Regions from separate parts of the Homo sapiens genome. Here regions 1 and 3 are each linked to region 2. The links come from fine-mapping of genetic effects on gene expression. A gene starts in region 2. Each other region holds a variant in brackets. All regions are shown on one strand. Distances are from middle to middle. Region 1 overlaps CTCF (CCCTC-binding factor). Region 2 holds the start of ACD (ACD shelterin complex subunit and telomerase recruitment factor). Region 3 overlaps RANBP10 (RAN binding protein 10).

Region 1 (8,174 bases), 81 kb before region 2:
GGCTCACTGCAACTTCCCCCTCCCAGGTTCAAGCAGTTCTCCTGCCTCAGTCTCCCGAGTAGCTGGGATTACAGGCGTTCACCCCCACGCCTGGCTAATTTTGGTATTTTTAGTAGAGATGGGGTTTTGCCATGTTGGCCAGGCTGGTCTCAAACTCCTGACCTCAGGTGATCCACCCAGTTCGGCCTCCCAAAGTGCTGGGATTACAGGCATGAACCACCACGCCCAGCCAAAAGCATCTTTTTTTTTTTTTTTTTTTTTTTTTTGAGATGGAGTCTTGCTCTGTTGCCCAGGCTGAAGTGCAGTGGTGCAATCTTGGCTCACTGCAAGCTCCGCATCCCAGGTTCACACCATTCTCCTGCCTCGGCCTCCCAAGTAGCTGAGACTACATGCGCCCACCACCACACCCAGCTAATTTTTGTATTTTTAGCAGAGACAGAGTTTCACCTTGTCAGCCAGGATGGTCTTGATCTCCTGACCTCTTGATCTGCCTGCCTCGGCCTCCCAAAGTGCTGGGATTACAGGCGTGAGCCACTGCGCCCAGCCAAAAGCATCTATTCTTAACTGTGTGTTTTACAATTACTAAGTATTGTTATTAACATATTGCTCTTAACATAAGTGGCATTTAAGAATTACATTTTTTCCATATGTCCTTGTGGATAGAGGAAAAAAAAAGAATTACATTTTCTTTAGTCACGCGTTGTGTTGCATGCCTGTAGTCCTAGCTATTCAGGAGGCTGAGGCCGGAGGATCGTCTGAGCTGAGAAGGTTGAGGTTGCAATGAGCCGTGGTCCCACCACTGCATTTCATTCAGCCTGGGTGACAGAGTAAGACCCTGTCTCAATAAACAAATAAGTAAGTAAGAATTAAGTTTTCTGAGGCTGGGCGTGGTGGCTCATGCTTATAATCCCAGCACTTTGGGAGGATGAATTTTATTTTAATCCCATTAGGACTCCAAGTCCTGGCCATGCAGCTTAATAGCTATATGGCCTTGGGCAGGGCAGTTCTATTAGAGGTGACTTCCTTGGGCTTCCCTTTCCTCTTTTTTTTTGAGAGATGGAGTCTCGCTCTGTCGCCAGGCTGGAGTGCAGTGGTGCAATCTCGGCTCACTGCAGCCTCTGCTTCCCGGGTTCAACCGATTCTCCTGCCTCAGCCTCCTGAATAGCTAGGACTACAGGTGCGCCACCATGTCTAGCTAATTTTTGTATTTTTAGTAGAGACGGGGTTTCACCATATTGGCTGGGCTGGTCTCAAACTCCTGACCTCAGGTGATCCGCCCACCTTGGCCTCCCAAAGTGCTGGGATTACAAGCGTGAGCCACCGCGCCCAGCCAAGTTGGTTATTGTATATATTTTGCATTAAACTGAACTTCGATGACCACCAGATAATACAAATGTTAATGAACTAAACGGAAATATTGTGCCATAGGAAAATGGGTTAGATTTATCAGAAAATCTGTTGAGCAGTAGAGAAGTGGGTAAGAAAACAAGGTCTCGTTGCATGTTGCAAGGGATATAAAACCCTAACCCATTTAAAAAGATGAATGTCAGCCTGGGCAACTTAGTGAGACCTTGTCTGTAAAAAAAAAAAAAAAAAAAAATGTAGCCAGGTGTGGTGGTGCACACCTGTAGTCTCAGCTACTTGGGAGGCTGAGATGGGAGGATCACCTGAGCCCAGGAGGTTAAGGCTGCATGCACTCTAGCCTGGGTGACAGAGTGAGACCCTGTCTTAAAAAAAAAAAAAAAAAAAAAACGGAAGGCTGTTAACCAGCAAAATGCTTATGAGAGAGGTTTTTTAATAGCATAATACCAAAAAGTTAATTATTATGGAATAAAAGTAAAGAAAATCCCAAACTAAAACCTGGCGTATAGCAGAAGCTCAATAAGTAATTATTTGGATGAATGAATGCCTAGGGAAAAAAGACTAAACAGACGTGGAAATCATCAGTCAAAACTAGTAGTGTGAGGGTAGTTTGGTTTGGGGGTCACTTTTTGTTGGTTTTGTATAGTTTGTGTAATTTTTTTTAATGCAAATACTTTTTTTCTTTTCTTAGATTAAAGCAGAATTACCAAAATCTGGCTATAAAAATATTTAACAATAGGTGACTGGTTAAATTATGATACATCCCTATAATAGAATGTTTTTTTTTTTTTTTTTTTTTGAGATGGTGTCTCCCTCTGTCACCTAGGCTGGAGTGCAGTGGCACGATCTCTGCTCACTGCAAACTCCGCCTCCCGGCTTCACACCATTCTCTTGCCTCAGCCTCCTGAGTAGCTAGAACCGCTAATTTTTTGTGTTTTTAGTAGAGATGGGGTTTCACCATGTTAGCCAGGATGGTCTGGATCTCCTGACCTCGTAATCCGCCTGCCTCTGCCTCCGAAAGTGCTGGGATTACAGGCGTGAGCCACCGTGCCTGGCCTTATAATAGAATGTTGTGTAGCCATTATGTATAAAAAATATGTTGAAATGGCAAGATATTTGAAACAAAGTACAAAGAAAGCAGATTATCAAACAATATGTATGGTATGATCTCGTGAGAGTAAGTATATGTATATATTGGGGAGGGGACTGCGAATTTGGATATAAGCCAGAATGTGTGTATAAAACCTATAGGTAGGTTTCTTTAAGCTTTCTCCTGTTGCCTGTATTGCATAATTTTTAAAGGAAAAGGGAATGCAGTACAGTAGGAAGTAGCACTGAAACTTTCTGATAAAGGTAATGAAATGGGCCGGGCGTGGTGGCTCACACCTGTAATCCCAGCACTTCGGGAGGCCGAGGTGGGCGGATCACGAGGTCAGGAGATCGACACCATCCTGGCTAACACAGTGAAACCCCGTTTCTACTAAAAATACAAAAATTAGCCAGGCATGGTGGCGGGCGCCTGTAGTCCCAGCTACTTGAGGAGGTTGAGGTGGGAGAATGGTGTGAACCTGGGAGGCTCTGTCTCAAAAAAAAAAAAAAAAAGGATAATGAAATGATAAAAGGTGTTTTTGCCTAGTTTACTTGGCAGTAATGTCTAGACTTCTTTTTTTTTTTTTATTTTTTGAGATGGAGTCTCGCTCTGTTGCCCAGGCTGGAGTGCAGTGGTGCGATATTGGCTCACTGCAAGCTCCGCCTCCCGGGTTCATG[T/C]CATTCCCCCGCCTCAGCCTCCTGAGTAGCTGGGACTACAGGCGCCTGCCACCACGCCTGCCTAATTTTTTTTTTTGTATTTTTTTTAGTAGAGACGGGATTTCACTGTGTTAGCCAGGATGGTCTCATCATCTCCTGACCTTGTGATCCGTCCACCTCGGCCTCCCAAAGTGCTGGGATTACAGGCGTGAGCCACCGCTCCCAGCCAGTCTAGACTTCTTGAGTGGAATCGAGAGGGCCACTGGAACAGTTATAGAAGTGCAGCCAGGAGGAGAGTAAGGCAGGAGGAAGCTCCTGCATCTGCCCAGCTGTTAGAGGGGATTGAGGTTGCAGAGGCAGTTCTTGCAGTGATCCTCACTTAAATTTGGTCTTAAACTTTGTTTAAATATTACCCAAGTAATGTTTAGTTTCATTCTTTGGAAGAGTCTAATGATTGTAGAATTACATTAGAACCTAAAGAATCCCTTAACTTTGTTTTCCCAGAGCTGAAGACTATTAATAGTCTGGTGTGTTGACTTTGCACTTTTATTAACAGGCATGTACATATAATACAACTTTTTAAACAAAATATAATTGTGCTATGGAAATTTTCTGTAACCACCACATTTAATGTAAGAACATGAGGGGGAAATACTTCAAACAGTGCAAAATGTTAATAATGAAAAGTAATCCTCAGTCTTGCCTCTGATCTCTCATTTTTCTTCCTCAGAGGCAATAAATACCAATTTCTGATGTATCCATCCAAAGAAAATTCTGCGTATATTCAAATGTATGAGTTTATGTATCTTTTTTTTTTTTTTTTTTTTTTTTTGAGACAGGGTTTTCACTCTGTTGCCCAGGCTGGAGTGAGACACGTGATCTTGGCTCACTGCAACCTCTACCTCCTGAGTTGAAGTGATTCTTGTGCCTCAGCCTCCCAAGTAGCTGAGATTACACACATGTGCGGCCATGCCCAGCGAATTTTTGTAGTTTTAGTAGAGATGGGATTTCACCGTGTTGGCCAGGCTGGTCTCGAACTCCTGGCCTCAAGTGTTCCACCCACCTCGGCCTCCCAAATTGCTGTGATTACAAGCATGAGCCAATGTGCCTGGCCAAGTTTATGTATCTTTTTAAAAAAGCACAAATAGGCCGGGCATGGTGTCTCACGCCTGTAATCTCAGCATTTTGGGAGGCCGAGGCAGGCGGATCACCTGAGGTCAGGAATTCGAGACCAGCCTGGCCAACATGGTGAAACCCCATCTCTACTAAAAATACAAAAATTAGCTGGGCGTGGTGGCAGGCGCCTGTAATCTCAGCTACTCAGGTGGCTGAGGCAGGAGAATCGCTTCAACCCGGGAAGTGGAGGTTGCAGTGAGCCGAGATTGCACCATTGCACTCCAGCCTGGGGGACAAGAGCAAGACTTCGTCTCAAAAATAAATAAATAAAAATAAAAGGCCGGGCGTGGTGGCTCACGCCTGTAATCCCAGCACTTTGGGAGGCCAAGGTGCGTGGATCACCTGAGGTCAGGAGTTCAAGACCAGCCTGACCAACATGGTGAAACCCCATCTCTACTAAAAATACAAAAATTAGCGGAGTGTGGTGGCACACGCCTGTAATCTCAGCTACTCGGGAGGCTGAGGCAGGAGAATCGCTTGAACCTGGGAGGTGGAGGTTGCAGTGAGCCGAGATCGCCATTGCACTCCAGCCTGGGCAACAAGAGTGAAACTCCGTCTCAAAATAAATAAATAAATAATAAAAATAAAAAATAAAGCACAAATAGTAGCTTACTATACACGTTGTTCTAGACGTTTGAGTTGTTTTCAATCTTTGTTTTTTTTTGTTTTTTTTTTATTTGAGACGGAGTCTTGCTGCTCTGTCACCTAGGCTGGAGTGCAGTGCCGTGATCTCGGCTCACTGCAATCCTTGCTTCTCAGGTTTAAGCGATTCTCTTGTCTCAGCCTCCCGAGTAGCTGGGATTATGGGCACATGCCACCATGCCCGGCTAATTTTTGTATTTTTAGTAGATACAGGGTTTCGTCATGTTGGCCAGGCTGGTCTCAAACTCCTGACCTCAGGTGATCCACCTGCCTCGGCCTCCCAATTGCCCTGGCCTCCCAACTGCCCAGGCTTCCTGAAGTGCTGGGATTACAGGTATGAGCCACCACGCCCAGCTTGTTTTTAATCTTTTGCCATTAGAGAAAAATACCCTAGTAGTAGATAGCCTTCTTATATACACATCTTTAGGCTCGTGTACTAGTGTAAACATAGAGAATTGCTTGTATATTCCTAGAAGAGGGAATGGCATGTACAAAGGCCCAGAGGCAGGAAAGGAAAGACCTAGAATGTTCTGGCTACTGAAAGAAGTTCAGTGTGATTAGAGGCGAGTATGTCAGGCTGGATGCAGATCTGCTGATAGGGCCCTGAAGCACTTGGTAGGCCATGTGAAAGAGTTTGGACTTTAAGAGTTTTCAGCATGGTGGTTTCAGAAGGGAAGTCTTCTTGCTGATAATGGATTTACATTTTAGAAATCCGTGGCCGCTGTGTGAAAAATGGTGGGTAATGGAGCAAGAGGGGAAGCAGGGAAACTGTTTAGAAGGCCATTGCATTGGTCCATGCAAGATGTAATGCTGTCCTGACTTAAGGTGGGATAACTGGGATTGCTGTTTGTCTAGTTTGTTAAATTATAATGATTATTTTAAATTAATTTAGAGACAGACTCTCGCTCTGTTGCCCAGGCTAGAGTGCTGTGGTGTGATCATAGCTCACTATAACCTTGAACTCCTGGCCTTAAGTGATCATCTGGCCTCAAGCTCCTGAGTAGCTAGGAGTGTAGGTGCGTATCACCAGGCCCAGCTAATTTTTTTTGTAAAGATGGGGTCTTACTGTGTTGCCCAGGCTGGCCTTCAACTCCTGGCCTCAAGCAATCCCCTCCTCCCAGGCCATCCAAGGTGTTGGGATTACAGGTGTGAGCCACCATGCCCAGCTTAGTTTTTTAATTATTTATGTATTTTATTTTTATTTTATTTATTTATGTATTTATTTATTTATTTATTATTTTTGAGACGAAGTCTCGCTCTTGTCCACCAGGCTGGAGTGCAGTGGCTCAATCTCAGCTCACTGCAGCCTCTGCTTCCCGGGTTCAAGTGATTCTCCTGCCTCGGCCTCCAGAGTAGCTGGGATTACAGGCGTGCACCACCACACTCGGCTAATTTTGTACTTTTAGTAGAGGCACCTGCCCCAACGCCTGGCCAAATTTTTTTTTTTTTTTTTTTTTTTAGTAGAGACAGGGATTCACCATGTTGGCCAGGCTGGTCTAGAACTCCTGACCTCAGGTGATCCACCCACGTCGGCCTCCCAAAGTGCTGGGATTACAGGCGTGAGCCACCGCACCAGGATTTACTTATTTTTTATTTATTTATTTATTTTTGAGATGGAATCTCGCTCTTTCGCCCACGCGGGAGTGCAGTGGCGCTATCTTGGCTCACTGCAAGCTCCACCTCCCGGGTTCACGCCATTCTCCTGCCTCAGCCTCCCGAGAAGCTGGGACTACAGGCACCCGCCACCGCACCCAGCTAATTTTTTGTGTTTTTAGTAGAGACGGGGTTTCACCGTGTTAGCCAGGATGGTCTCGATCTGCTGACCTCCTGATCCACCTGCCTCGGCCTCCCAGAGTGCTGGGATTACAGGCGTGAGCCACTGCACCTGGCCCGGCCTTACTTATTTTTAATTAGGTTGGAATCCTATTCTGCATCCTCCTTTGTAACCTTGCTGCGTGTTGTGAACGTTTTTCCTGTTAGATGATCTTTTTCTTTTTTTTTTTTTTGAGACAGTCTCACTCCGTCTCCCGTGCTGGAGTGCAGTGGCATGATCTAGGCTCACTGCTACCTCTGCCTCCTGGGGTCAAGTGATTCTTGTGCCTTAGCCTCCCAAGTAGCTGGGATTACAGACATGCTCCACTAGGCCTGGCTTATTTTATTTTATTTTTATTTTATTTATCTTTTTCAGACAGAGTCTTCCTCTGTTGTCCAGTCTGGAGTGTGGTGGCACGATCTTGGCTCGCTACAACCTCCGCCTCCCAGGTTCAAGCGATTCTCCTTCGTTAGCCTCCGGAGTAGATGGGATTACAGTCGTGCACCACCACACCCGGCTAATCATGTACTTTTAGTAGAGATGAGGTTTTATCACGTTGGCCAGGCTGGTCTAGAACTCCTGACCTCAGGTGATCCACCCACCTCGGCCTCCCAAAGTGTTGGGATTACAGACGTGAGCCATAGCACACAGCGCTAATTTTTGTGTTTTTAGTGGAGACAGCGTTTTGTCATGTTGACTGGGCTGATGTTGATCCACCTGCCTCAGCGTCCGAAAGTGCTGGGGTTACAGGTGTGAGCCACCTCACACAGCCTCTGTTAGATATCTTTTGTTGGCCGGGTGCAGTGGCTCATGCCTGTAATCCCAGCACTTTGGGAGGCCGAGGCTGGCGGATCACGAGGTCAGGAGATGGAGACCATCCTGGCTAATACGGTGAAACCCCGTCTCTACTAAAACAAAAAATTAGCTGGGTGTGGTGGTGGGCACCTGTAGTCCCAGCTACTGGGGAGGCTGAGGCAGGAGAATGGCATGAACGGAGCTTGCAGTGAGCCGAGATCGTGCCACTGCACTCCAGCCTGGGCCACAGAGCAAGACTCCGTCTCAAAAAAAAAAAAAAAAATCTTCTGTTACTTCAAATTAGTAGGAACTTTGTTGTTGGATGTTAAGTGGCATGTGTGCATGCTTTAGTTTTCTGAACTGTTCCTTTGGGCATAGCAGTCCTTGTTTGCCCTGACTTTTTGCCTCTAGTATGTTGTTTCTACCTATTCCTCATTAATTGAATTATTTCTAAAATACGAGCATTGGCCAGGCAGGGTGGCTCATGCCTGTAATCCCAGTACTTTGTGAGGCTGAGGCGAACGGATCGCTTGAGTTCAGGAGTTTAAGACCAGCTTGGGCGACATGATGAAACTCGGTCTCTACTAAAAATATAAAAATCAGCCGAATATGGTGGTGGGTGCCTGTAATCCCAGCTACT
Region 2 (8,140 bases):
TGCCCATGGTTCTTCCCTGACTCTCCTCTGTGGGCCACCCTGCTAATGTCTCTCTCATTAGAGTCCCAAAGAACCCCAGCCCTCCATACCATCCATTCAATATCTTAAAAAACAAAAAACAAAAACAAACAAAAAACATGAAGTCGGCCTGAATTTAGAAATATTCAAGTGTGCAAAGAGTTCTAAGAGGGCTGTACTGGGTTTGCCATGTTCTTGTCCAGCCCATGGTGGGCATTCAGTGGCAGGATTATAAGAACAAGAACGAACAAAAGGCTAGGGTGTGGGGAGCGGGCAGGGCTGGAATCTGATTGCCCTGTTTCCTGCAGAGCAAAGATGGCGAGATCAAGAAAGCTGGCTCAGATGGTAAGTGGGACCCTGGGGTGTGGCAGTACATTTGCCAGGAGGTGTCCTTATAGACAGCCCCCAAGGCACTTGCTCTCCTTGGGGAGGAAGGGGAGAGGCCAGGTTTTTCTTCCCCTCACCTCCAAGGTCTGGTACCTGAGTCCCCAGCTCCGCCTTGCAGGTGACATTATGGACAGTTCCACGGAGGCCCCTCCCATCTCGATCAAGTCCCGCACCCACTCTGTGTCTGCTGGTGAGTGAGGGCCACTGTGTGTGTTGGTAGTGGGAGCAGGGACAGGCAGGAGTTGGGTCAGACTGTTGTTCAGACCTATCGCCAATGCCTGACCAGGTCTTGGCTGACACCTTTCTCCCTACAGACCCTTCCTGCAGACCTGGCCCAGGGAGCCAGGGGCCTGAGTCTGCCACCTGGAAGACACTGGGGCAGCAGTTGAATGCGGAGCTCAGGAGCCGTGGTTGGGGCCAACAGGATGGTCCAGGCCCTCCCTCCCCTGGTCAAAGCCCAAGTCCCTGCAGAACCAGCCCCTCCCCAGACAGCCTGGGCCTCCCAGAGGACCCTTGCTTGGGCCCCAGAAATGAAGGTAGGCAGGCACCTGATTCCCCACCCCAATCCTGGCCTCGGGGCTGGAGGAGTTCCTGCTGGGAACTCAGCTCCTCTAAGGACCCTGAGGGTGGGAGGCAAGGGCTGGAGTGGGGGCAGCTGTTGGAATACCCCTGATTCCCTGGCCTCCCTCAGATGGCCAGCTGAGGCCGAGGCCTCTCTCGGCAGGGCGGCGAGCAGTGTCTGTGCATGAGGACCAGCTCCAGGCCCCTGCTGGTGAGGGGAGACACCTCCACGTGTGCTTGAATGCAGGAGATGTGGGAGGGTGGGCTTCTGGGGCTCCCTTCATAGCTTTGGTCCTTGGAGGGAGCCACCAGTGTGTGAGGTCTCAAGAAATCAGGGAGCCAGAAGACCAGGTGCAAGGGTTTGACAGCAAGCCCTTCCAACTAGCACTGGCTCCACTTCCCGAAGAGCAGCCTCTGCCAGGGGTGAGGACGCAGGGACGGGGGATGCTCTGAAGGCAGCAGTGTGTGTGAGTGCATGCTTATGTGCACTGGAGGTGGAAGAGAGGGGCAGGGGATGGACAGACCCCAAGCCTTAGCAACCCACCCCAAGCCTTTCTGTGTCCCTTAGAACGGCCCCTGAGGCTGCAGCGCTCCCCCGTCCTCAAACGCAGGCCAAAACTCGAGGCACCTCCATCCCCAAGCCTAGGTAAGAGGGGGTCCAGGCCAGCTGGGAGGGTGGCAGGACTGCTTAGCCCAGCCCTGACCCTTCCTCTCTCTCCCTCCCTCCCCTCACAGGATCTGGCCTTGGAACCGAGCCTCTGCCCCCACAGCCCACAGAGCCCTCCAGCCCTGAGCGGAGCCCACCCTCCCCAGCCACAGACCAAAGAGGCGGCGGCCCCAATCCCTGATCCTCTCCTCTCCTGCCGCATGAGATTATTTTATTAAAAAACTCAAAGGAAGCAGAGTGTGGAGCGGTATCTGTCCTGCGTGACGTCTCACATCGGAGTTGGCTCAGACCCTGGCTGTGCATCCATCAGAAAGTGCAAGGCCCAGGCCATGAGCTGGGGAGGAAGCCTGGAAAGAAACCACCGCTGCAGGTCAATGGAGCCTGGGACTAGTGACCAAGAGTTGGGGCAGACCCAGGCACTCACCTGACAGCTTGGACCCGAGCACAGAGGGACGTGCAGGGTGGCTCATACTCATACTGGAAGGCAGAACCATCACGATGCCTCTTTGGGGGTTCCTGAAAGGGGTATGGTGTCTGGGGAAGAGCTAACAAGGACCCCAACCCCATCCAAGGCTACCCATGCTCCCTCCCAGCTCTACCTCAGGCCTTCCTTGTTCTACCCTCCAGCTGCAGAGGGGCTATGCTCACCCAGACAGAGCAGGGCTCCTGGGCTCCCCTGGTAGCTCCGGTCCTGGGAAAAGGCGGCCGATTCTTGCAGGGCAACCCTACAAACTCCTTGAACTCCAGGCTAGGTTTCTGGGGCCTGGTCACAAGAGCCTGGTGTGGACTGGGGACATGGCTACGGGGTGAGAGACTGGGAGTGCAGCTCTGGAGTGGGGAGCTGGGGGTACGGCTGGCGTGTGGGGACCTGGGGGTCAGGGTGGCAGGGGCTGAGCAGATGGCTGGTGAGGGCTGGGAGCTGCTTCTCTGCCCTGGGTCTGGAGCAGCCAAGGACAGGGCAGGCAGAAGGCTGATGCTGGTACCACTTTCCTCGGATGACATGTGGCCGGGTAAGGCCGGGGTTCCTGAGGAGGAGGGGACTTATTGTAGGCACAGCCCTCTCCGCTCAGGGCAGCTGAGTGGCCTGCGAGCTCAGACAGGACTGCAGGGACCGTGTTCATCCCCCACCCACCGTGCACCTTTCACAGCATCCTGCGCAGCCCGGGAACCTGACTGACAGGCGGCAGTGAGTGCCTGTGACCTGTGCATCACCTCACCTGAGGAACTGGGTGAGGAAGGAGGAGAGGCTATGAGGGTCAGAGATAGGTCCTGCAGAGCCGGGTCTGGTGGGGGCAGCTCAGGGCCTGGGGGGTTCAGGAAGTCTTATCAGCACTGTGGACCTGGGCCCCAGGTATCCCCCCAACCTCTCCAGTCCCCCTTACCCTGTGTCCTCTGACAGGGGCCTAGAGAGCTCAGAATTAGCTGGTCATTCTCAGAGATGCACAGCATTGAGCTGGGGACAGTGTACACAGCTTCTCCCTGTGGGACATGAACTCTGTAGGACAGGCCCGTTTACTCTCATGTCCTGTGGGATATGACCCTTGCCCAACTCCTCACCCTGACATCTCCCAAGCAAATCCCCAGACTGACCGTGGCCTTGCATCGTGAGGCAGCCCAGTGGGTGACAGGGGGTGCTGTGCAAGGGCCCTCCAGTGTCAGGCAGCTTTCAGCCAGGCACACGAGTGCCCCCTGATGCTCCTGGTCCTCCCGCATTTCATCCAGAAGCTGGGACAGTGATAGGCCTGGGGACAGGGGACCATGGGATGAGTCAAGGCTTAAAGGGGAGGACCAGGAGGGTGAGGGGGAAGACAGCTTATTGAGGAAGCATAAGGTTAAGGCTGGAGAGATCACTGCACAGCGTGTTAGGATCACTGGTCAAGCTCTACAGTACCTGCATTGGACGAGGTGGACTCTGAAAGGTGCTCCCTACAGGAAGAGAGTGGCCAGGACTCAGGAACCATGCTGAGGCCTGTCTACCTAGATACACCATCCCCTCACCAAACAACACGTGGCCCCCGAGCCCAACCCCAGACTCACTCAAGGCAGTCATAGAGCTTTTTCTGAACATCTAAGTCTTGGTTGCTAAGAAAAAGAGAAGGGTAGTTAATGGGGGCCCAAGCCCTCCTACCCCATAGGCGTCTGCCAGCGCCGGCCAGGCTGGGGTGGGGAGAGCTGCTGGAGGGCGGAGGCATCACTTACCAACCAGGCACCCGTAGCCGGGGCTGCTCCGTGGGCAGCAGGCTGAAGCGGTCCACCTGGAGATAGAACTCTGCGGGCTGGAGGAGTTCGGGGGGAAGGGGGGGTCTCAGAATCGTCACGAAGAGTCATGCCCGGTAACCCGCCCAAGGCAGTCTCACCACTCACCGCGCCGCCCTCAGCGACCTGGACATGAACCCCGCAGTCCTGCAGCAGCAGCAGCCGGCCCTCTGTCCCGCGGAAGCCGAACTCCTTCTCCTCCCTGCAACAAGCAGGATCCTCACTGCCGGGCCCACCTGAACACAAGGCCCGCCCACCTCGCGCTCTCCTGCCGGACTCCGACCTCCAGAGCCGCGCGGGGCCTCTCACCAGTCCGAGGTGTCCAGGGCCTCCCGCGTCACCAGGCATCGGACACTGTGGGTCCCGTCAGACACAAGCAGCGTGGCCCCGACGTCGGACGTATCAGGGGCGTGGGATGGGCCCGCGACCGCGGCCTCGGCGTCCTGTAGTACCTGACGGCGGCGAGCGGCGTCAATCCCACCACCCCGGGCCTCCGCCTCGGTCTCCGGGCCCTGAATGGGGGCTCACCTCAAGCAGCTGCCCGGCTCGTGGACTGGAGGGTGTCTCTGACCCCAGAATCAGCTCCCGAATCCAGGGCCGTAGGACCAGCCTCCCCGAACCTGCCATCCCCACGGCTACACCCAGCGGATGCAACGGGCCCGGGTTTCCCGCGGGCGCCCAGGCCCCGCCTTTCCTCGGAAGAGGAAGCTCCTTCGCTGGGCGGGGCCGGAGGAGGAGGCCCCGCCCACGTACACCCCGCGCCTGCGCACGAGGGCGTCCTGCTCGGGGGCCTGTGTGCAGACTCCCGCTGGTCCACCCCGCTGGTGCACGGGATGCTGGCCCGTTTACTCTCATCGCGGCGTCACTCTGACAGCGGCCAGGCATTTGGGCCGTTCGTCAAGATTCCTGTGGTACCGGTAGGGAACAGAACAAGGGCTGGTCCCGTCCCTGGAGAGGGTTCCAGGGCCGGAGGCTGAGGCCGAGTGCCGTCCGAGCGAGTTGACTCGAAACCATTTCAGCACCGTGTGACCCCCGAACGGTTCAGCACATATTTATTATGACTCAGTTTCCTCATCTACACAGTGCACGGTCTTGTAAGGCCAGTGGAAATAAGAGCACACACACAGCGCTAAATAAATGGTACTTCCTTCGCCCTCCCCTCGGATTGGCGGAGCCCTGCTCCCCAGACTCCGGGGGCGCGCGGACCTCAGCGTGATGACGCAAGAGCGGAGGACGGCTCCTCTCCATCCACGGCTCCGTTTCCTAGGAAACGTGGACTCCGCGTTCCACTCTGCGTCGCTGCCCCCTTGACGTCACGCTCCGGATGGGAAGGCGGGGCGTGTGCTACCGCCAGGGGCGGGGCGGCGCGGGCGGGCCGGCCGGGCTGTGCACCTGCGCCTCGGCGGGCCGCCTGGGGCACCGTCCCCGGCCCGCCCGGCCCCGCCATGGCCCGGCCGCAGAGGACTCCGGCGCGCAGTCCCGATAGCATCGTCGAGGTGAAGAGCAAAGTAAGGGCTCCTCCGGCCTCGGCCCTAGGCGCTCCCAATTCCCTCTTTCTCCCCTTCCCAGCTCCTTGGTCCCCGCCACCTCTTCCCTCTATCCTCCAAGTCCCATTCTGCTTTTCTGCTCGCCTTCCCCCATCCGTCTTCCTTCCTCCACTGCTGGTCTCCAGCTCTCTGTGGCCTGAGTACCTGGAGGGCGGTAAGAAGACCTTGGACAGCGTCCCTGGTACTGGAGCTGAGGTCTGGGCTTAAGGCTGCCGCAAAAGCGGCAGCCGCATCTTTCCCATTCCTGCCAGCCTGCGGTGAGAAAGGGGCGCAGGCTGTCCTGACTCCTCCTCTCCCCCAACCCCGACTTCCAGTTTGACGCCGAGTTCCGACGCTTCGCGCTGCCTCGCGCTTCGGTGAGCGGCTTCCAGGAGTTCTCGCGGTTGCTGCGGGCGGTGCACCAGATCCCGGGCCTGGACGTGCTACTTGGCTATACGGATGCTCATGGCGACCTGCTGCCCCTCACCAACGACGACAGCCTGCACCGGGCCCTGGCCAGCGGGCCCCCGCCACTGCGCCTACTGGTGCAGAAGCGGGGTGAGGAGGGGTACAGTGGGCAGCCTCTGTGGGGTAAGGTGTCTGTGGGGCAGGTCTACAAGGGTTAGTCCATGCCCAGGGTACCCAAGCGTCACCCTCTGCAGTCCCTGCCCTTGGCTTGACCTCTAAGTGGTAGGAAATAGCTACAGTGCCCCCTGTAAACAGCCCAAGTCGGGGAGCAGGTCTCTGATCTCAACATCCCCCCTCTTCTGCAGCAGAAGCTGACTCCAGCGGCCTGGCTTTTGCCTCCAACTCTCTGCAGCGGCGCAAGAAAGGGCTCTTGCTGCGGCCAGTGGCACCCCTGCGCACCCGGCCACCCTTGCTAATCAGCCTGCCCCAAGATTTCCGCCAGGTTTCCTCAGTCATAGACGTGGACCTACTGCCTGAGACCCACCGACGGGTGCGGCTGCACAAGCATGGTTCAGACCGCCCCCTGGGCTTCTACATCCGAGATGGCATGAGCGTGCGTGTGGCTCCCCAGGGCCTGGAGCGGGTTCCAGGAATCTTCATCTCCCGCCTGGTACGTGGGGGTCTGGCTGAGAGTACAGGGCTGCTGGCGGTCAGTGATGAGATCCTCGAGGTCAATGGCATTGAAGTAGCCGGGAAGACCTTGGACCAAGTGACGGACATGATGGTTGCCAACAGCCATAACCTCATTGTCACTGTCAAGCCCGCCAACCAGCGCAATAACGTGGTGCGAGGGGCATCTGGGCGTTTGACAGGTCCTCCCTCTGCAGGGCCTGGGCCTGCTGAGCCTGATAGTGACGATGACAGCAGTGACCTGGTCATTGAGAACCGCCAGCCTCCCAGTTCCAATGGGCTGTCTCAGGGGCCCCCGTGCTGGGACCTGCACCCTGGCTGCCGACATCCTGGTACCCGCAGCTCTCTGCCCTCCCTGGATGACCAGGAGCAGGCCAGTTCTGGCTGGGGGAGTCGCATTCGAGGAGATGGTAGTGGCTTCAGCCTCTGACAGTCAGGATGAAGCCCCATGCCACTCCACACTGCTGGGACATGGCAGGGACTTCACAGTGGGGGTTTTTAGCTGGCTCACAGGGCTCCCTCAGCCTGGGGAACATTAAAGGTTTTCTACAAATACAGTCATGGTCCTTGTGTGTCCCAGTTCCAGCCTCCTCCCTGGTCTCACCAGCTTGCCTTCTGCTCTGGACTAAGGCAGGAGTGACATTGGGGAGAACTTCCTGCAATCAAGCAGCAGGAGGGCCACCAGGCTTGGCATTTTTAGGGTAAGAAAAGCTCTTATGGAAACAAATCCTGTGTACAAAATGTTTAATTTTGACAAAGCAGTTAAAAGGCTAGGGTGGCCCTTCTGCAGCCACTGGTGACTGGGAAGAGTGCTCTAGGGACACTGGCCACCCCCCTGCTCCTGTCTTCAGACCTCTGCTCTGGGATTGGGTCCAACCCTGTCCTTTGCAGCCATGTGGCGATCCTCAGCATGGAGCTCCTTGCCACTGTCCCCCAAAGGGGCTCAGTCGTCCATCTTCACGAAGACTTTGGGCCGAGAAAAGATCTTGATGGCCTCCTCTACCTGCACCAGCTTCCGGTCCAGCTCAGCACGGTGGCTCTGGGCTCTCAGTGAGTCTGCCCCAGCAGGCAGCAGTACCAGCTCACGCAGCAGCTGGCTCTGGCCTACAGGGGGCCCGGGAACAGTGAGAACAGTGAGTGTTGGGCAGGGGTGCCCGGTCCCCAGTGGGGCCCCCCTCCAGCCTCCCTGCCCAGGTACTCACTCTGGAGCAGCTTGGTCAGTGTTTCCAGCCGCTGGTTCTCAGGCATGCGCGTGTGGCCTGGGGGCATGGCAGGGTCCGGCTGGCTCTGCTTGCGGGCCTCGGCCTCCCGCCGCCACAGGTCCCTGCGCTCCAACAAGCTGTGGGTACACAGGCTCAGAGTTGATGACCCGAGGGCAGAGGTTGGTTCCCACCCTCCACAGGTGTCCTTCACCCTGAGTGTCGGGCAGTGAGACCTACTAATGTGGCACATGGCCCTTCTGCGTGGCATTGTAGTGCTCCTGGGCCTGCCGCTGCTGCTCTAGCACTTGTGCCAGGACCTGCAGTGAGCAGGAATGCCTCCGGGGGGCTCTCTTGGCAGCTCGTGCATTGTGACGAATGAAGTCCACCCCCAGGCCTGGCTCCTGCAGGACACAGCAAGCGTGGGT
Region 3 (8,174 bases), 140 kb after region 2:
AAAACCCAAAGGCACTGCCCGTAACCGGAGGGTGTAGCCACTAATGCCCCAGCTTAATTTGAGAGAGTTCCCATTAGACCCCACAGGGGTCTAACCTCCACCTCTATGGCCCTGTGTAATTACGGAGCTGAAGCACACAAGCATAGCAGTGTGTGAACACCACAAATGTCCTTTGGTACACAGACACTACCCTTAACTCTAGTTACAGGTGTTCATCCAGACACTGGCCTTGAGTTGGCTGGCTTGTAATTTTTTTTTTTTTTTTTTTTTTTAGATGGAGTTTCACTTGTTTGACTGGCTGGAGCACAATGGCACGACCACGGCTCATTGCAACCTCCGCTTCCCAGGTTCAAGCAATTCTCCTGCCTCAGCCTCCCGAGTAGCTAGGATTACAGGTATACGCCACCATGCCTGGCTAATGTTTGTATTTTTAGTAGAGACAGGGTTTCACCATGTTGGTCACGCTGGTCTCAAACTCCTAACCTCAGGTGATCCGCCCACCTCAGCCTCCCAAAGTGCTGGGATTACAGGCGTGAGCCACCGTGCCCAGCCTCGCTTGTAATATTTTATCTGCCATCTTATTTTCAATCGGAGACATTATTTAAGTAGCCTAGTCCACCACTACATGAAAATTCTAAGTCTTGATAATTTTATAAGCATCAAAGTCCATATATTAAACCCCTTTCTACTGGAAATTTCTGGTTTCTGTTTTCTGCATTTGCTTCTACTAGTACTATGCACATAATGGCCATAAGCCTGCATTTGTTTAAACCTGCATCTCTCTATCCCTCTGCTATTTATTTTTATTTTTTATTTTATTTATTTATTTATTTATTTTTGAGACGAGTCTCACTCTCTCATCCACACTGGAATGCAGTAGCTCAATCATAGCTCACTGTAGCCTCAAACTCCTGGTTTCAAGCAATCCTCCTGCCTCAGCCTCCCAAGTAGCTAGGTCTACAGAAGTATTCTATCACACCCCGCTCATTTTTAAAAATGTTTCGTAGAGGTGGGGGTCTCACTATGTTGTCCAGGCTGGTCTTGAACCCCTAGGCTCAAGCAATCCTTCCGTCTTGGCCTTCCAAAGTGCTGGGACTGGTCGGGGTGGTGGCTCAAGCCTGTAATCCCAGCACTTTGAGGGGCCGAGGCGGGCAGATCACCTGAGATCAGCAGTTTGAGACCAGCCTGGCCAACATGGCGAAACCCCATCTCTACTAGAAATACAAAAATTAGCCAGGCATGGTGGTGCATGCCTGTAACCTCAGCTCTCAGGAGGCTGAGGCGGGAGAATTGCTTGAACTCAGGGGGCGGAGGTTGGAGTGAGCCGAGGTCATGCTGCTGCACTCCAGCCTGGGTGACACAGCGAGACTCCGTCTCAAAATAAAAAACGAGCCACCACACCCGGCCTGCTGTGTATTTTTTAAACGTAGACTTTATCAGGTATTAAAAAAATCCAACATATTCTTTTTTTTTTTTTTTTTGAGATGGAGTCTCACTCTGTCTCCCAGGCTGGAGTGCAGTGGCACGATCTCGGCTCACTATAACCTCCGCCTCCCAGGTTCAACCAATTCTCCTGCCTCAGCCTCCCGAAGAGCTGAGACTACAGGTGTGTGCCACCATGGCCAGCTAATTTTTTTGTATTTTTAGTAGAGACAGGGTTTCACCGTGTTAGCCAGGATGGTCTTGATCTCCTGACCTCATGATCCACCTGCCTCAGCCTCCCAAAGTGCTGGGATTACAGGCTTGAGCCACTGGGCCCAGCCTAAAAAAAATCCTACATATTCTTTAACAGTTAAAAAAAAAAATTTCAGGCCACTATCTTGCCACTGCACTCCAGCCTAGGTGACAAGAGTGAGACCCTGCCTCAAATTAAAAAAAAAAAAAAACAAAAAAAAAAAACAGCAACAAAAAAAGGCCAAGTACAGTGGCTCACACCTGTAATCCCAGTACTCCGGGAGGCCAAGACAGGCAGATCACTTAAGCCCAGGAAGATCACCCTGGGCAAGTGGTGAAATTCCATTTCTACTTAAAAAAAAAAAAATTAGCTGAGCATGATGGCATGTGCCTGTAGTCCCAGCTACTCAGGAGGCTGAGGTGGGAGAATCTCTTGAGCAGGAGGGGAGGTTGCAGAGCCATGATTGCAATACTGCACTCCAGCCTGGGCAACAGAGTGAGACCCCGCCTCAAAAAAATAAATAGGCTGGGTGCGGTGGTCCACACCTATAATCCCAGCACTTTGGGAGGCTGAGGTAGGAGGATGACCTAAGGTCGGGAGTTCAAGACCAGCCTGACCAACATGGAGAAACCCTGTCTTTACTAAAAATACAAAATTAGCCAGGCATGGTGGTGCACGCCTGTAATCCCAGCTACTCAGGAGGCTGAGGCAGGAGAATCGCTTGAACCCGGGAGGCGGAAGTTATGGTGAGCCAAGATCGTGCCATTGTACTCCAGCCTGGGCAACAAGAGTGAAACTCCGTCTCAAAATAAACAAACAAATAAAATAATTTTTTAAAAATAAAGGTTTTCGGCCGGGCGCGGTGGCTCACACCTGTAATCCCAGCACTTTGGGAGGCCGAGGCGGGTGGATCACGAGGTCAGGAGATCGAGACCACGGTGAAACCCCATCTCTACTAAAAATACAAAAAATTAGCCAGGTGCGGTGGCGGGCACCTGTAGTCCCAGCTACTCAGGAGGCTGAGGCAGGAGAGTGGCGTGAACCCGGAAAGTGGAGCTTGCAGTGAGCTGAGATCGCACCACTGCACTCCAGCCTGGGCGACAGAGTGAGACTCCGTCTCAAAAATAAACAAACAAACAAACAAACAAATGTTTTCTATACGTAAAATAAAAATATTTTGATTTTTTTTTTTTTTTTTTGGAGACAGAGCCTTACTCTGTTGCCCAGGCTGGAGTGCAGTGGCACAGTCTCAGCTCACTGCAACCTCCACCTCCCGCGTTCAAGTGATTCTCCTGACTCAGCCTCCTGAGTAGCTGGGATTACAGGCGCCTGCCACCATGCCCAGCTAATATTTTTTACTTTTAGTAGAGACAGGGTTTCGCCATGTCGGCCAGGCTGGTTTCAAACTCCTGACCTTGTGATCCGCCTGCCTCGGCCTCCCAAAGCGCTGGGATTACAGGTGTGAGCCACAGCACACAGCCTATTTTGATTTTTATAAAAGTAAATATAACTACTGACAAACTACTGGTGCAAGTTGTTATAAAAACAGGGCATTCCATTTTTTTAAAAAGTCCATGCCAATTTCAGATACATGGCTTTATAAACTGGGTTAGAATCAGTTCTACTCAGCAATCCAACCCCTCTGTTTCTTTCCTCTTGGTTCAGCTCTGCCTTGGGACTCTCCTTTAGAAGAAATAAGCTGAGCCCTCAACCATCTGGGCCTCTATCCACTTATCTTCCAACCACCTCCACCCTGAGGGCTAGTAGATTTCATCTCATGATGAAACTCTGACCAGTAAATTATAGCTGCCTGATGTGCTGTGCATTGAGAAAAATTCTGGGCTCTGTCTGGACAAGAACAAGTGCTACTGTCAATCAGTAATGTTGGTCATAGAAGCTGAGGGTATTGTGGGGTATTGGGGCCTTCACACTTGCCACCCCTGACCTAAACTAAACTCCCCTGAAACCCCAAGCATCTCTAATTCCAAGAGTTAAGTAACAAGAAATGGCATAAGAGGGGTGCCAAGGGCTTCCCCAGTCCCCTCCCAACTTCCCTATATAGTACAGAGCATCTTGTTCTGGCCCCTTCATGACAGAAGGGCTAGGCTCTGTTCCACCACCAAGTCACAACACCAACGATCCTAGAATTACAAAGACATTTTATATGGATTTTGAACAGAATGGAGAGGCAGAGGAACATCTTTGCATTTAGACATAATTATCCATCCCTCTTCCACTGATGAGTCCCTTCTTTCCAACTTGACCCGACCACACAAGACCCACTCTGGAGCCCTTTATTCCTTCCCAATGGTCCCATAATAGGAATGGCACACAGTGCCTGCCACATGGGGCTGCTAGGTTCATCCTCCTGTGCTCTGGCCTGATGAGCTTCTGCTTCTCTTCTAACAAGGAATCTCCCTTACACCATGACCCATACAGGGAAAAGACCAAAAGTTCCAGAGAACAAAAACACCATCAAGGCAGAAAGGCAGGAGGTGAAGTGAATTCTAGGAATTTCTCTAAAAGCTAATCCTTGACCAAGAAGGCCCCAGCTATAAAGAAGGCAACGACGCTCCCCACTCTCAGCTCACAGTTGGAGCCTGGGTAGCAACATACAGTGAGGAGGGAGGCCCTACCAGAAAAGTGGCCACAGGCCAGGTGTGGTGGCTCATGCCTGTAATCCCAGCACTTTGGGAGGCTGAGGCAGGAGGATTGATTGAGCGTAGGAGTTCCAGACCAGCCTAGGAAATATAGCAAGACCCTGTCTCTACAAAAAATTTAAAAATTAGCCAGGGCTGGGGATGGTGGCTCACACCCGTAGTCCCAGCACTTTGGGAGGCTGAGGTGGGCAGATCATTTGAGGTCAGGAGTTCAAAACCAGCCTGGCCAACATGGCAAAACCTCGTCTCTACTAAAAATACCAAAATTAGCCAGGTGTCATGGCACACGCCTGTAATCCCAGCTACTCAGGAGGCTGAGGCATGAGAATCACTTGAACCCTGGGAGGCGGAGGTTGCAGTGAGCCGAGATCACTCCACTGGACTCCAACCTGGGTGACAGAGCAAC[ACT/A]CTGTCTCAAAAAATAAATTAAATAAATAAAATAAAAATTAGCCAGGCATGATGGCATGCACCTGTAGTCCCAGCTACTCAAGAGTCTCAGGTAGGAAGATTGCTTGAACTCAGGAGGTCGAGGCTGCAGTGAGCCATGATTGTGCCACTGCACTCCAGCCTGAGTGACAGAGAGAGACCCTCTCTCAAAAAAAAAAAAAAAAAAAAAAGCAAAGAACAGTGGCCACCATCTAGACTCCAGTTCTCTTACCCCGTGTTCCAGAACCCAAACATCCTACCCTGTGTTCCAGAACCCAAACATTCCATGTCTCCACAAATAGCACAATGTGTTACCTGAGTAGAAGTGCAGCCCAAAGCTCAGCATCTGCCTGTAAGACCATCAACTCCGGGGGGCAGTAAGGGAAAATGGGGCACAACCACGGCCTGTACCTACCTTGGGCAAGGACAGCACCTTCTTATCAGGGCGGGCAGGACAACGCCTTCCCCAGATGACATATGAGCACCAAAGTTCTCAACAGCACTGTACAATGCATGTAGACTGGAACTTGGTGAGGGGATCCAGGGTGAGAAGCCAGCCACAGCTGTCTCTCAGCTGGAAGGGCCTAAGCTTAGATGGTCCTCCACACCAGGAATGTGGCAGGTGAGATCTTAATCAAGATATCTTAATTAACAGTGGCTCTCTAGGTCTCCATGGAAAATCACTTTGGCTGATTCTGGCTCACCAGAGGAGATGCTTGGGTATAAAACATGGGGCATTACTGTCTTTCAGATGGGAGCTGGCAAAACCAAAATACCAGAACTCCAGCACAAGCAGAGTCCTCTCACCTCTGAGAAGCCTCCTGGCTACCAGTCTTTCACACCCCATCCCTTCATCTCTTCATACCAAAGGAACAGCCAAGAGAAAAAAAGACAACCGCTATGAGAAAACCATGCTAGAGCCAAAGACCTAAAGTCACTGGCCCACCCTGGACAAGGGCTCTTGGCCAGAGAAGCCTGGCTGAACCAGACTGGCAGAGTCTCTTCTTTTCTTCACTCTCAAAAGCATGGGTAGATCCACAGCCCCCCACACTGCTACTGCCCTCAAGATACAGCCCACGCTCCCTGGCCACAGCATACAAGGTATTTTCTTTTTTATTTTTTTAAGACAGAGTCTCACTCTGTCACCCAGGCTGGAGAGCAGTGGCGTGATCTCGGCTCACTGCAACCTTCACCTCCCAGGTTCGAGTGATTCTCCTGCCTCAGCCTCCCAAGTAGCTGGGATTACAGGCATGCACCACCACTATTATTAGCGCCTGGCTAATTTTTGTATTTTTAGGAGAGATGGGGTTTCGCCATGTTGGCCAGGCTGTTCTCGAACTCCTGAACTCAAGTGACCTGCCCGCCTCAGTCTCCTAAAGTACTGGGATTACAGGCATGAGCCAGGCCACACACAAGGTATTTTCAGTCTGGCCCTACCGACCTCATGTTCTGCGCTCCACATCTCTTTTTTTTTTTTTTTTTTTTGAGACAGAGTCTCGCTCTGTTGCCCAGGCTGGAGTGCAGTGGCGCGATCTCGGCTCACTGCAAGCTCGGCCTCCCGGGTTCACGCCATTCTCCTGCCTCAGCCTCCCGAGTAGCTGGGACTACAGGCGCCCGCCACCATGCCTGGCTAATTTTTTGTATTTTTAGTAGAGACGGGGTTTCACCATGTTAGCCACGATGGTCTCGATCTCCTTACCTCGTGATCCGCCCGCCTTGGCCTCCCAAAGTGCCGGGAATACAGGTGTGAGCCACTGCGCCCGGCCAGCTCCATGTCTTTTTATGCACTGTTTCTTCTGCCTGAAGCATCTGCTTCTCACTTTGTTCACCTAGAACACTCTAACTCCTCTTTCCAGAGCCCACATCACCTCTTATATGATTCTATGATGTTTTCCTCAAACTCTGAGGTACAGTCCATCCTCCAGGCCACCCCTGGATATGACACATACGGTGGCCTGACCCTTCGACACCACCGGTGGGGCCTCATGCCTGTGCTCCTGGGGCCCAGGCTGGGACAAAACAATGGATGTGATGGCTCACACCTGTAATCCTAGCACTTTGGGAGGCTGAGGAGGGCAGATCATGAGGTCAAGAGATCTAGAACATCCTGGCCAACATGGTGAAACACCGTCTCTACTAAAAATACAAAAACTAGCTGGGCATGGTGGTGCACGCCTGTAGTCCCAGCTACTCGGGAGGGTGAGGCAGGGGAATCACTTGAACCCAGGAGGCGGAGGTTTGCAGTGAGCCAAGATTGTGCCACTGCACTCCAGCCTGGCAACAGAGCGAGACTCTGTTTCAAAAACAACAACAACAACAACAACCAAAAAAAAAAAACAATGGGTACTGCGCCCTGGTGTCTGGAATGAATGAATGAGTGCACTGCTGCCTGGCCAAAGGAAGTCAGCTGCAGGAGCAAGGGAAGGCTGGCTGTGGTCAGAGACCCCTGCTCTGGGCCTGGGCCCAGACACTGGCTACAGAGGAAAATGCCCCCACCCCTCTCCATGCCTTCCAGTGCTCTAGCCCAGGCCTACTACTCTTGGGTAAAGCAACCATCACATGTCAGGAGGCCTCCGCCGCTGGGATGATGTTACAGTCTATTTTGAGGGTCACACTGGAGCATCTGTCAGCCTAGCCAGCCACACCCTCCATGTGTCATCACTAAGAGCCAGGGACACCCACAGGTCCATGAACTCTGCCTGCAGACATTGCTCCTCCCCAGGGACCCTCAGCTTCAGGCCCTCCTTCGCTTCCTAGAAAGACAGACCTGGATGCCCCTTATCTCCTGGCACCACTGGCAGTGCTCTGATGTCTCCTCACCCCACCAGACCCGCTCCCCGAGTTCACAGCTCTGGTGACTCGGCAAAATGCAGTTGAAGCCCATCAGTCTGTGCCAAGCTCTTAGCTCAAACACAGCCCCTCCTACTCCACAGAGCTCTCTTATACTTGAGGAGTGCCCAGAAAGCCTAGCACCCAGAAGTCAAGCTAGTTACCCATCAGACTCATAGGTCTAACAGGTCTCGCCTACTGGGGAACTCCTACTCATTCCTCCCAACTGTTCCCAGGCTCTGCCTCCTCTTGCAGAAAGACTTTCAGTCCACTCTCTACTGAATGGGCCACAGGCTTCCTGAGGACAAAGCTGATCTGTGCTGGCTTTACATCTGTTCTCCCTATACCTAGTATAGGGCCTGGAACATAGTAGGTATATATAAATATTCTGTGAAATCTTGACATGAAACTTTCCTTATTAGACTAGCTTAGTGTGTTCTTCTCCAAAAGATATTGTCAAAACAAAGGACGTTCTGGAGAACAATGACACTAACAACTGGGTTTATAAATACCTTTTACAAAGGAGGTGTACTCAAATCTACAGAAAAGCAAGTTTACAGATTAAATGGAACAGTAAGTTGATC

The links. PIP is the estimated chance that this variant, and not a neighbour inherited with it, causes the effect. A credible set is the group of variants that fine-mapping cannot tell apart.
Region 1: its variant is the best candidate, but not a certain one, in a credible set for the expression of ACD in whole blood (TOPMed, PIP 0.52).
Region 3: its variant is the best candidate, but not a certain one, in a credible set for the expression of ACD in whole blood (TOPMed, PIP 0.59).

The regions. Positions count from the first base shown.
Region 1 is chr16:67,574,411-67,582,584 of GRCh38, forward strand. The region is part of intron 2 of CTCF (CCCTC-binding factor); the gene reads left to right. Among named protein-coding and RNA genes, the nearest start is that of CTCF, 16 kb to the left of the region's middle. The variant T/C (reference allele first, on the strand shown) is at 3,130.
Region 2 is chr16:67,655,705-67,663,844 of GRCh38, forward strand. It overlaps ACD (ACD shelterin complex subunit and telomerase recruitment factor), which reads right to left and starts at 4,556. Exons shown (of 12, transcript NM_001082486.2): 1 at 4,418-4,556; 2 at 4,199-4,341; 3 at 3,998-4,091; 4 at 3,833-3,909; 5 at 3,671-3,715; 6 at 3,525-3,559; 7 at 3,224-3,375; 8 at 3,016-3,112; 9 at 2,851-2,937; 10 at 2,282-2,658; 11 at 2,058-2,149; 12 at 1,808-1,980. The coding sequence starts at 4,516. The coding sequence ends at 1,902. CARMIL2 (capping protein regulator and myosin 1 linker 2) reads left to right here. Exons shown (of 38, transcript NM_001013838.3): 33 at 327-363; 34 at 524-595; 35 at 720-941; 36 at 1,097-1,177; 37 at 1,535-1,612; 38 at 1,702-1,865. The coding sequence ends at 1,814. It overlaps PARD6A (par-6 family cell polarity regulator alpha), which reads left to right and starts at 5,256. Exons shown (of 3, transcript NM_001037281.2): 1 at 5,256-5,397; 2 at 5,751-5,973; 3 at 6,192-7,070. The coding sequence starts at 5,335. The coding sequence ends at 6,943. It overlaps ENKD1 (enkurin domain containing 1), which reads right to left. Exons shown (of 7, transcript NM_032140.3): 5 at 7,953-8,116; 6 at 7,716-7,852; 7 at 7,241-7,617. The coding sequence ends at 7,457. RefSeq lists an enhancer at 3,886-4,469 and silencers at 4,623-4,732, 5,043-5,522.
Region 3 is chr16:67,793,060-67,801,233 of GRCh38, forward strand. All of the region lies in intron 2 of RANBP10 (RAN binding protein 10), which reads right to left. Among named protein-coding and RNA genes, the nearest start is that of RANBP10, 9.4 kb to the right of the region's middle. The variant ACT/A (reference allele first, on the strand shown) is at 4,742.